4 separate regions of the Homo sapiens genome follow, and all the other regions are linked to region 2. The links come from fine-mapping of genetic effects on gene expression. A gene starts in region 2. Each other region holds a variant in brackets. All regions are shown on one strand. Distances are from middle to middle. Region 1 overlaps GCNT2 (glucosaminyl (N-acetyl) transferase 2 (I blood group)). Region 2 holds the start of GCNT2 (glucosaminyl (N-acetyl) transferase 2 (I blood group)). Region 3 has its middle 4.1 kb from the start of LINC02522. Region 4 overlaps GCNT2 (glucosaminyl (N-acetyl) transferase 2 (I blood group)).

The links. PIP is the estimated chance that this variant, and not a neighbour inherited with it, causes the effect.
Region 1: its variant is the best candidate, but not a certain one, in a credible set for the expression of GCNT2 in iPS cells (HipSci, PIP 0.54).
Region 3: its variant is the best candidate, but not a certain one, in a credible set for the expression of GCNT2 in testis (GTEx, PIP 0.54).
Region 4: its variant is the best candidate, but not a certain one, in a credible set for the expression of GCNT2 in aorta (GTEx, PIP 0.87).

Annotation. Positions count from the first base shown.
Region 1 is chr6:10,556,434-10,558,933 of GRCh38, reverse strand. The region is part of intron 3 of GCNT2 (glucosaminyl (N-acetyl) transferase 2 (I blood group)); the gene reads right to left. Among named protein-coding and RNA genes, the nearest start is that of GCNT2, 36 kb to the right of the region's middle. RefSeq lists enhancers at 1-379, 2,313-2,500. The variant AG/G (reference allele first, on the strand shown) is at 1,440.
Region 2 is chr6:10,520,128-10,522,890 of GRCh38, reverse strand. It overlaps GCNT2 (glucosaminyl (N-acetyl) transferase 2 (I blood group)), which reads right to left and starts at 1,540. Exons shown (of 5, transcript NM_145649.5): 1 at 1,474-1,540. It overlaps LOC101928146 (a long non-coding RNA gene), which reads left to right and starts at 1,485. Exons shown (of 3, transcript XR_001743961.2): 1 at 1,485-1,543. RefSeq lists an enhancer at 1,194-1,253.
Region 3 is chr6:10,484,655-10,487,417 of GRCh38, reverse strand. No RefSeq gene overlaps it. Among named protein-coding and RNA genes, the nearest start is that of LINC02522, 4.1 kb to the right of the region's middle. The variant T/C (reference allele first, on the strand shown) is at 1,179.
Region 4 is chr6:10,544,179-10,546,678 of GRCh38, reverse strand. All of the region lies in intron 3 of GCNT2 (glucosaminyl (N-acetyl) transferase 2 (I blood group)), which reads right to left. Among named protein-coding and RNA genes, the nearest start is that of GCNT2, 24 kb to the right of the region's middle. The variant G/A (reference allele first, on the strand shown) is at 1,111.

The DNA of each region.
Region 1 (2,500 bases), 36 kb before region 2:
AAATCAGCTCCTAAGTACCTAATGCTCCTCAATGATATGCGAATGGTGGAAACAACAGATCAAAGGTGAAGAGAGGATGAACCCAGGCAGAGGCAGGTGCGGAAACAGTGTGCGCAGCATACGAGTGAGCCGCATTCACCAGGAAAGTCACCCTGGGATTCAAACACCAGGCATGGTATTTTCCAGAGAATGCCGGCGTGTTTATCGCCCAGCAGGCCCTGCCCTGCAGCCTGAGAGCACCTACCAGCCTTTCGAACTTGGCAATCCCCCAACAGCCAGAACAATGATTGCTTTTCTCTTGCTATAATAATGCTGTCTAGTTCATCAGAGATCCATTTTGTATTTTTCATTGAGTCCAAAGCACGCTGTTTTCTTCAGAAGAAATCCCATCATGTTTTATACACTTTAAAAAACAATCGGTCTGGTAAATTAGTAAAGATAGGAAAATTCGGGTGAGAAAGCAAGGAGTTTCTGCTAGGATCTCATTATTTTATTTGAAATAAAATGTATTTTTAAAAATCCTACACATATAATATGGTACATGCATGAGTCCAAATATTTCTCAGCTCAACAATGTCTTAGGGAGACAGCTCTGGTGCCATAGTAAAGCTTCATGCTTTACCATTCATTCACTCACTCACTGATTTATTCATCTAATATATACTTATTGAGCATTTACTCTCTGTTCTAAGCACTGAGGAGCAGTTAATGAGATAGAAAATAACCCTGGCTTCATGGAACAAATGCAGAGGAGACCAAGAACAAACCCATGCAAATAGGTAAATATCCTAATTCCACAGGGCAATAAACTCTTTAAAAGAAAAACAGAGTGGTGTGCTGGCCAATGAGGGGGAGTATCAGAGCTGCTGACACCTGAGAGCTGAGATCTGGCTAAGGGGAAGGAGCCTGTGGAGGCCTGGAGTAGGCAGGAGGGTGGCCAAGGCAAAGATCCTGGGGTAAGAGCAAGCCTGACAAATTTAGAGGAAAGAAAGAACACCAGTGTGGACTAACAGCTATTGTGGTAAAGATGTAATAAGATGATGTGTGAAAAAGAACTTGATGGACCACCAAGTGATAGCATGGAAAGGTATTACTTAGTAGTGCTAGAACATGTGAATTATCACATAAAGAACATCATTCTGGGCTAGGCATGGTGGCTCATGGCTATAATCCCAGCATTTTGGGAGGCCAAGATGGGGAGGATAGCTTGAGCTGTGGAGTTGGAGACCAGCCTGGGCAACATAGCGAGACCCTGTCTGCACAAAATTTTTTTTAAAAATTAGCCCAGTATGGTGGTGTGCACCTGTAGTCCCAGCTACTCAGGAGACTGAAGTGGGAGGATTGCTGGAGCCCAGGAGGTCCAGGGTTCAGTGAGCCATGATGTTGCCCCTGCACTCCAGCCTGGGCCACAGAGTGAGATCCAGTCTCAAAAAAAAAAA[AG/G]AACATCTTTCTGCATTTAGAAAGGACTAGGGTGAGAACTATATATGTTCCAGTTTTCATCTTCTACTTCCTAATAAAAAGTGGCTGGTTATTCTAAAGCCCTTTCAAATACGACACATTTCTTTTGCATGAAATATGGAATTGTACGTACCTGGAATCCTATTGAGTGTCACCCAGAAATGCTCATCAGGACTGAAAGTGTCCTTGGACCACTGGAGCAAATCAACAGCCCGTGGGTCATGCAGAACAAAGTTGGCAAACTCTCTTGATAGAGCCACATAGGCAGAGCCAAAGTAAATTGTGAGATTATGGGGGGGAGGCGGTTTCAACGCTGTTGTTCTTATCACATAGGAAAGCTCTTTGCCCAGGTGCTCTTGGTGGACATATTTAGTCCGTCCAATTGCATGAGCTGGGGGCAGCACCCCTGGGGTGATATTTTTACCTTTAAATCCTTTCAGATACTGAACTATTTCCTTGTTGGTTTTCAGGGGGAAGTCTTGCCCACAGGTGTTGATAACGTACTTCCATGAGACCTCGAAGGCAGAAAGATCTCTGATGCAGTTCAGGTCAGCCTGGAGCCTGGAGATCCCTCCATAGACAACGGGTTCCATCTTGGAAGCCAGAAAAGCGTTTGGGAAGCAGCTTAATAGTTGCTCTACCGCATCTTTAAATTCAGTTGTTGCTTTTTCATCCACATGAACACAGTAGATATTTTGGGGCATGTAAATAGCCCTGAAGAGCCTTGCAAAGGTGTCAAAGTGATGATGGATGACCATTATATATGCCAAGGGAAAGTCAGCTTCTTCCTTAGATAAAGGGGCTGTGATGTAGTGGCTCTGGGTCAAGTATTCCTTGCAAGAAGACTTCTCATGGATCATTAGTTTGTTTTTCCACAGGAAACGTGTTTTTCCATTGATAAAAGATGTGCAAACTTGAGTCAGCCTCAAAGGGTCTGAGATATTTAGCCTTTGGAAGCTTGGATCTCCCCCAAAATTGAACACAGAGAAGACGATAAAAATAATTACACTAGAGACAGAAATTATGAAGAGGTAACGCATTG
Region 2 (2,763 bases):
AGGATTGAGTGTATTCTATAAATGGGATATTATGAGAAGCTAGAACAGCAGCCCAATCTCCGTGCCCGAGGCTTTGTTTGTTGTTTTCACCTTTCTGGATGGAGTTTTGCTCTTACCCTCCCGACCTCTATCGCTCAGAAAGTCCTTGATAGGATTTTGAAGTTACAGGAACCAAAAATTACTGCCATAGGTAGAATACTTCCACAAGGGAGACCTCAAGCTTCTGATCACTAAGAATAATTACATGAAAGAATATAGCCTCCCTTCTTCCGATAATTGCAATATGCTGTTCAATCAGAACAGAGTGCAAAGAAACAGATCCTTTACGCTGTAGGGTCCCCAGGGCCTGGGATTACAGTCTCCCTATTTCTTCTGGAAAACCACAGCCTACAGGTAACTACCCTCTATTTGGCCAATCTACTACCAGGTGCAGAAAGACTATTTACAAGTGACGACTCTCAAAGGCCTACATTTAAAAATAAGGAAAACAGAAAAGTAGCTTTGAGTTTGGCAAAACCTGAATTTACTTAGTAGACCTGTCTTTAATATCAGAAGATGGGTTTTCATAGAATGGCAATATGGATCTACTACTTTTCTACATGGCCCAGAGCTTCATTTTCAATTTTACCTATTATCAAATGAGGTTCATACCTCACAGGAATGTTCATACCTCACAGCAACTAATTAAATAAAATACATTTCAGGCTGTGGACGGTGGCTCACGCCTGTAATCCCAGCACTTCAGGAGGCTGAGGCAGGTGGATCACATGGAGTCAGGAGTTTGAGACCAGCCTGGCCAACATGATGAAACCCCATCTCTACTAAAGATACAAAAATTAGCCGGGCTTGGTTGTGCATGCCTGTAGTCCCAGCTACTCAGGAGGCTGAGGCAGGACCCAGGAGGTGGGGGTTGCAGTAAGCTGAGATCGCACCACCGTACTCTCGCCTGGGTGACAGAGTGAGACTATGTCTGGAAAAAAAAAAAAAAATTTAAATGCCAGACAGTACCAAGTACCTTATCAAATTCTGGAAACATTTTCCCTTGCCTGAAGGAACTGAGAAACATAAACCATTAAGTCTGAAGTGAACGTTGTTCTTTCCTACAAAGTTAAAAGTTGTAACTGAGATACAGAAGGATACTAATGATTTAGAGACAGATGGAAAACCCTCGTGCCCAGTAGGCCCATCATGTAATGAAACAACATACAAACATGCTATTCTTTGAAAAAAAAAAAACCTTTGAAAACAGAAATCTCATGACCAAATGACTCATTCAACATTTTTTGGTGTACTTACTTTATGCCCGGCACTGTGCTAGGTTCTGGAAATATAAAACATCCACGCAGCCCATTTGAGTACCAGCCTATTGGACCTTAAACTGCTGTCAGCGATTTAACAGAGGTAACACGAGAAGACCAGCTCCCCGCAGTTTCCTCCCTCCACCAGTTTCCCAGCACGCTGACCTCCACCTACCTCTCTCAGTTCCCAGGAGGGTAAGATTGCCCAGAGGCGTCCAGCAGTGAACACAGTAAGCCTGTTTAAGGTAAACGCAGTTTAACCCTAGCGTTTTAAGTGGAATAACAGAGGCTGGAATGTGAAAGTGGGAAGGTCTGTTTGCTTTCAGTCCCACCCCCAAGGCCTGCCCTAAGAGTCTGAGACAGGAGAACACACGTCTACAGAGAGCCTGCCTAGAGTCTGGATTTTTTAAGCTGCTGGATACCAGGTGCTACCTGACACCAGCTCATCCCCTGCCTCTAGAGTCCTGGAGGGCTTTGAGTTGATCACTTTCCACTCCAGGAATGTTATAAGAAACCGCTCAGAAAGGTAACTGCCCTGGGTGTAACTGGGTTTTTCATGAGGACACTCCAAGATAGACCTCAGGATAATTATTTGGGTGTTTTCCTAAGACTACCCTCCATTTTGCCCCCTTAGAGGCTGCTTTTTCAAGAGGGGAAGTTTTGGATTCCCTCACAGACCCCTCGTGTTTAAGGTTCCACTCTTATGTTTAGTTATTGGTAGGAAATCTTATAGTCTCTGCCCCAGGGTAACCTCTAACAGATTTAGATATGTGTTCTGCTCAAATGCTACCCACACTGGGGAAGGGGAATCCTAAGGTGGCAGCAGAATTTAGTAGAAAATGCCCTGGGCATTTTCAGAAGGCAAGTTCTCTCCTCTCTAATGCAAGCTGTATATCTTGAGCAAGTCACTTCCTCTCTCTGAACCTCTGGCTTTTCCTAGGCCAGGCAAACGGGCTCTTTACATACCCTTTCAGGAATGAACTGATTCCTGTCCCAGGAAACAAGCTAGTCATACCGTGCATTTAGCCATATCCCTCTCTTCTGCCAAACACTTTGCAGTCAGAAGCAGCTTATAAAATTCAGTGGGGATAAAGCAGGGTATGGTGGTGTGCACCTGCAGTTTCAGCTACTAGGGAGGCTGAGGCGGGAGGGTTGTTTGAGCCCAGGAATTCTGAGACCAGCCTGGGCAACATAGTGAGACATCAACTTAAAAAAAAAAAAAAAAAAAGAAAAAATCCAACTGAGTTAAAAAAAATTTTTTTCCAGTCATAAAGCCAGGATAAACTGAAGAAATAGCAAATCAACTTTTTTTTTTTTTTTTTTTTTTTGTGACAGAGCCTTGCTCTGTCACCCAGTGCAGTGTCACAATCTCAGCTCACTGCACCCTCTGCCTCCCAGGTTCAAGCAATTCTCCTGCCTCAGCCTCCTGAGTAGCTGGGACTACAGGCATCCACCACTATGCCCG
Region 3 (2,763 bases), 35 kb after region 2:
CGGGGACATGGAGAATTTTTGTGTCTAGCTCAGGGATTGTAAACGCACCAATCAGCACCCTGTCAAAACAGACCAATCAGCTCTCTGTAAAATGGACCAATCAGCAGGATGTGAGTGGGGCCAGATGAGAGAATAAAAGCAGGCTGCCTTGAGCTTCCAGTAGTAATAAGCTGTAACCTACTTTTGCTGTGTGGAAGCTTTTTCTCCTCCTCCTCCCTCGTTTTGTTTCTGCTTGGTCTTTAGGTCTGTGCTGCTTTTGTGAATTGTAGCACTCATTATGAAGGTCTGTGGCTTCACTTCTGAAGCCAGTGAGCCCACAAATTCACTGAGACGTAACTCCAGACGTGCCAGTTTTACGAGCTATAACATTCACTGTGAAAGTTAGTAGCCTCACTTCTGAGCAAGGAAGACTACATAATCCACCAAAAGGAAAAAAACTGAACACATTGGAACATTAGAAGGAGCAAGCTCCAGACATGCCGCTTATAAGAAATTTAATACTCACTGTTAAGGGCCCATGGTTTCATTTTTGAAGTCGGTGAAACCGGGCACTGACCAATTCTGGACACACCAGCAGCCCTGGAAAAGCATAAGTTTGTGAAGACTATTTGGAAAGTCTGAGTCCCTGTCCCTGGAGTGTGTCTTTTCTGTGTGTGTGTGTGGTTGTGTTGGTTTTTTTTTTTTTTGGAGTTTTTGGTCTTGGTTCCCAAGTTGGACTGCGTATGATCTCAACTCACTGCAACCTCTGCTTGCTGGGTTCAAGTGATTCTCCTGCCTCAGCCTCTGCTAGCAGCTGGGATTACAGGTAGGAGGCACCATGCCTAACTTTTGTATTTTTAGTAGAGATAGGGTTTCACCATGTTGGTGAGGCTGGTCTCGAACTCCTGACCTCAATCCGCCTGCCTCAGCCTTCTAAAGTGCTGGGGTTACAGGCATGAGCCACCGCAGCTGGCCTACAAAAAGTTTTAAACTATCCAGGCATGGTGGCATGCCTGTGGTGCAGCTATTCAGGAGACTGAGGTGGGAGGATCACTTGATCCCAGGTGAGCTCTGATTACACCGCTGCATTCCAGTCTGGGCAACAGGGCAACTCAGACAGTTGATGTCCAAGATCAGTAGCTGGGAGGGGCAAAATTCTCTCTTAGCCTCTTTTTTACCTGTTCAGGTCTTCAGTTGAT[T/C]GGATGAGATCCATCCACATTAGGAAGATAATCTGCTTTACTCAGTTTACCAATTCGAAGGTGAATCTCACCCAGAAACACCCCCACAAACACACCCAGAATAATGTTTGACCAAATATCTGGGCACTCCATGGCCCGCCGAGTCGTTGACATGTAAAATTACCCTTTACGCCCAATAAGAAAGTTAAGGTGCCAGGCACAGTGGCTCATGCCTATAATCCCAGCACTTTGGGAGGCCGAGGTGGGGGGATCATTTGAGGTCAGGAGTTCAAGACCAGTCCGGCCAACATGGTGAAACCCCATCTCTACTAAAAATACAAAAAATTAGCCAGGCGTGGTGGTGGGTGCCTGTAATCCCAGCTACTTGGGAGGCTGAGACAGGAGAATCGCTTGAACCCAGGAGGCGGAGGTTGCAGTGAGCCGAGATTGTGCCATTGCGCTCCAGCCAGGGCGACAGAGTGAGATTCCAAAAAAAAATAAAAAAGTTAGGGTCAGGAAAGCAGACGCAGATTTTTCAATCTGCCTGGAATAAAGTGCTGTGGTGTGTGTTTCTTTTTCTTTTCCTGACCTGACAGTGTTTGTGACGATGCTGCCTATAAAACAGAAGACACTTGTTCATCCAGCACAGCTGCCAGCAAGATCATCTAGATTAAAGTCACTACGCCACAGCAGGTGACGAAGATGTGTTCTCTGAAATTATAAAGTGACTCAAGCTCTGAAAATCTGTGGAAAGAAACTTAAGGACAGAAAATCCTAACAGGTCTCAACGGCATCTGTTCATTACATCTTTTCCAAAAAGAAGTCCATCCTCTCATTTTTTCTTTTTAAACAAGACTTTCATCCTAGCACAAACCTATGACCAAAACGTCATCAAAAGGAAGGAAAGGAAGAAGGTTGAGGAATGAAAAAAAAAGTCAGATGAGTGATTTTACATACACGATCTCATTCAATTTATTGCTCGCCAAGACCTATAAAAATAGATATTAACCTAGCAATTGTACTCTTAGGTATTTATCCCAGAGAAATTACAATGTACATTAACATAAAAACCCATATAAGAATGTTCATAGGAGTCTTGTTCATAATAGCCCAAAATTTGGAGACAGTCCAAATGTCCTTTAATGAATAGTTAAACTGTGTACATCCAAACTACAAACTATCACTTAGCAATCAAAAGGAACAAATTCACAATAAATGCAACAACTTGGATGAAGCTCCAAGGAAGTATGCAGAGTGGAAAAAAATCCCACACACGCCTACATGATTCTATGTATATAACATTATTGATAATACAAAGTTTTGGAAGTGAACAGATTTGTGGCTGCCAGGCATTGAGGGGGGTCATGATGAAGACAGGTAGGTGTGGCTGTAAAAGGACAACAGGAGAGGTCAGAGTTCTTTGTGGTCATGGCTGGGGAAGTAAATACACAAACCTACACATGCGATATAGTTATTTAGAACAAAATACACATGAGTAACAGTGAAACTGAATAAAATTGGTAGTTTATGTACATTTTAATATACTAGATGCAATATTGTATGATAGTTTTGCAAACTTTACTGCGGGAAGCTGGGTAAAGGGTAC
Region 4 (2,500 bases), 24 kb before region 2:
TATTTTCTTTTCTTTTCTTTTAAACGGAGTCTCACCCTGTCACCCAGGCTAGAGTACAATGGCGAGATCTTGGCTCACTGCAACCTCCGCCCCCTGGGTTCAAGCAATTATCCTGCCTCAGCCTCCTGAGTAGCTGGGATTACAAGCACCTGCCACCACGCCTGGCTAATTTTTTTGTATTTTTAGTAGAGACAGGGTTTCACCATATTGGCCAGGCTGGTCTCGAACTCCTGACCTCATGATCCGCCCACCTCGGCTTCCCAAAGTGCTGGGATTACAGTCATCAGCCACCGTGCCTGGACAACAGTAGGTTTTTAGTAGTTGAGTTTTAGGGGAGTCAAAAGCTATACATAGGTTTTTGGCTACACAGGGGTTCAGTGGGCCTAACCGCCACATTGTTGGCACTGGTCAACTGCATTTGTCTGAAACCTGTAGATAAAATGGACAAAGCTGCTCTCAGCCAGAGGTATCTGGCCAAACGGCTTCAACTGTCCTGGGTTTTGCCTGCCGTATATGCTGCTGAGATCAACGTGTAGCCCATCTGTAACCCATTCCCAGCAAGTCAGCATGCACAGACATGGCAGGGAAGCTCAGCAGTGAGGCATAAAGAACAGCAAAAGAGGCTGCCGTTACAGGAATCAGTTTAAGAAGCTAAAAACACACATCGGGAAAATATTACACATGGGGAAAAGATCAAGTCATTTCTAGCTGCCCTTGGAACTAGACCCTGCAACCTTTGGAACAACTCCAGGTTTCTACTTTCAGGCCCCACATCTTGTCAACAGTGACCTATCCATTGTAACTGATTTTATTTCTTAACCTTGCCTTTTCTTTAATTTCATTTACCCTGCCATCTTAACCATCCCTTGTATTGCCTGGGAGCTGAAAAGCAAGGAAGTCTTACACCCTCCTCCACTGCTGGCTTTTGCCTGATTCACAAAGCTGAAGACACTTGAGTCTCCCAGACCAGGACTAAACTCAGGAAAGCAGCTAAAAACAGCTTCACATGGCTCAGGATTTGAATGGAAAATTCTACAAGGGTGACTGATTTACCCTTCATGAAAACTGTTATGATTTTTCACAAGGCACGAAGGAGGTTAGGATTGCAAC[G/A]ATCATAGGAATTTGAAGTTCGCTTTATTCCTAATAAGGAGAATACTAGAAAGAGACACAGTTATGAATCCTTCGAGGTAAAAACAAAAGAACATGAAACCCTGTCAGAAACTGTCCTAAGTTTGTCAAGCTCAGGAACACAAAAGGTAGTATTTAAAGCAGCAAAAATCACTAAGGAAGTTTGAGCTGGCTTGATGTGGATTTAAACAAAACTCCAAAGTTTCTAGGTGGTCAAATGTCGATAGCGCAGACCAATGAGCACCCACAAAAATGGAGATCACAGCCAAGGCACAGCTCTTGCAAAATGGAAAAAGCCAAAAAAGTAAAAGCAAAGGCACCAACTAGGACTTCAGCACGAACCCTTCAGCTCACCGTGCAAGAGCTGGGAGGAAAAGGATATAGACTAGAAAGAGAAGATACAGTTTTATTAGAAAGGAGGGGGCTGGGGGGCTGTACCCACTTGATTCTTAAAAAGAGGAATGATGGTTTACATAAAATCGCAGAAAAGGAATCTAATCATAGTAACTACATATTAGGATTAAATTAAATTGCTTTATTTATTTTCCCAGCAGCTCTCTGACCACCTCATTTATTTATTTATTTATTTATTTATTTATTTATTTGAGACAGAGTTTTTGCTCTGTTGCCAAGGCTGGGGTGCAGTGGCACAATCTCAGCTCACTGCAACCTCTGCCTCCCGGTTTCCAGTGATTCTCCTGCCTCAGCCTCCCGAGTAGCTCAGATTACAGGTGCCTGCCACCACGCCCAGCTAATTTTTTGTATTTTTAGTGGAGATGGGGTTTCACCACGTTGGCCAGGCTGGTCTCGAACTCCTGATCTCAGGTGATCTGCCCACCTCCACATCCCAAAATGCTGCTATTACAGGCATGAGCCATCATGCCCGGCCCCATTTATTTATTTATTTATTTATTTAATATTTTATTTTATTTTATGTATTTATTTTTGAGATGGAGTCTTGCTCTGTCACCCAGGCTGGAGTGCAGTGTGGTGATCTCGGCTCACTGCAACCTCCGCCTCCTGGGTTCAAGCAATTCTCTGCCTCAGCCTCCCGAGTAGCTGGGATTATAGGCACCTGCCACCACGCCCTGCTAATTTTTTTGCGTTTTTAGTAGAGATGGGGTTTCACCAAGTTAGCCAGACTGGTCTTGAACTCCTGACCTCGTGATCCACCTGCCTCAGCCTCCCAAAGTGCTGGGATTACAGGCGTGAGCCACCGTGTTGCCTATTTTACTTTTTGAGACAGAGTCTTGCTGTCGCCCAGGCTGGAATGCAGTGATGTGATCTCGGCTCACTGCAACCTCCGCCTCCTGGGTTCATGCAATTCTCCTGTCTCAGCCTCCCAAGTAGCTGGGATTACAGGCGCACACCA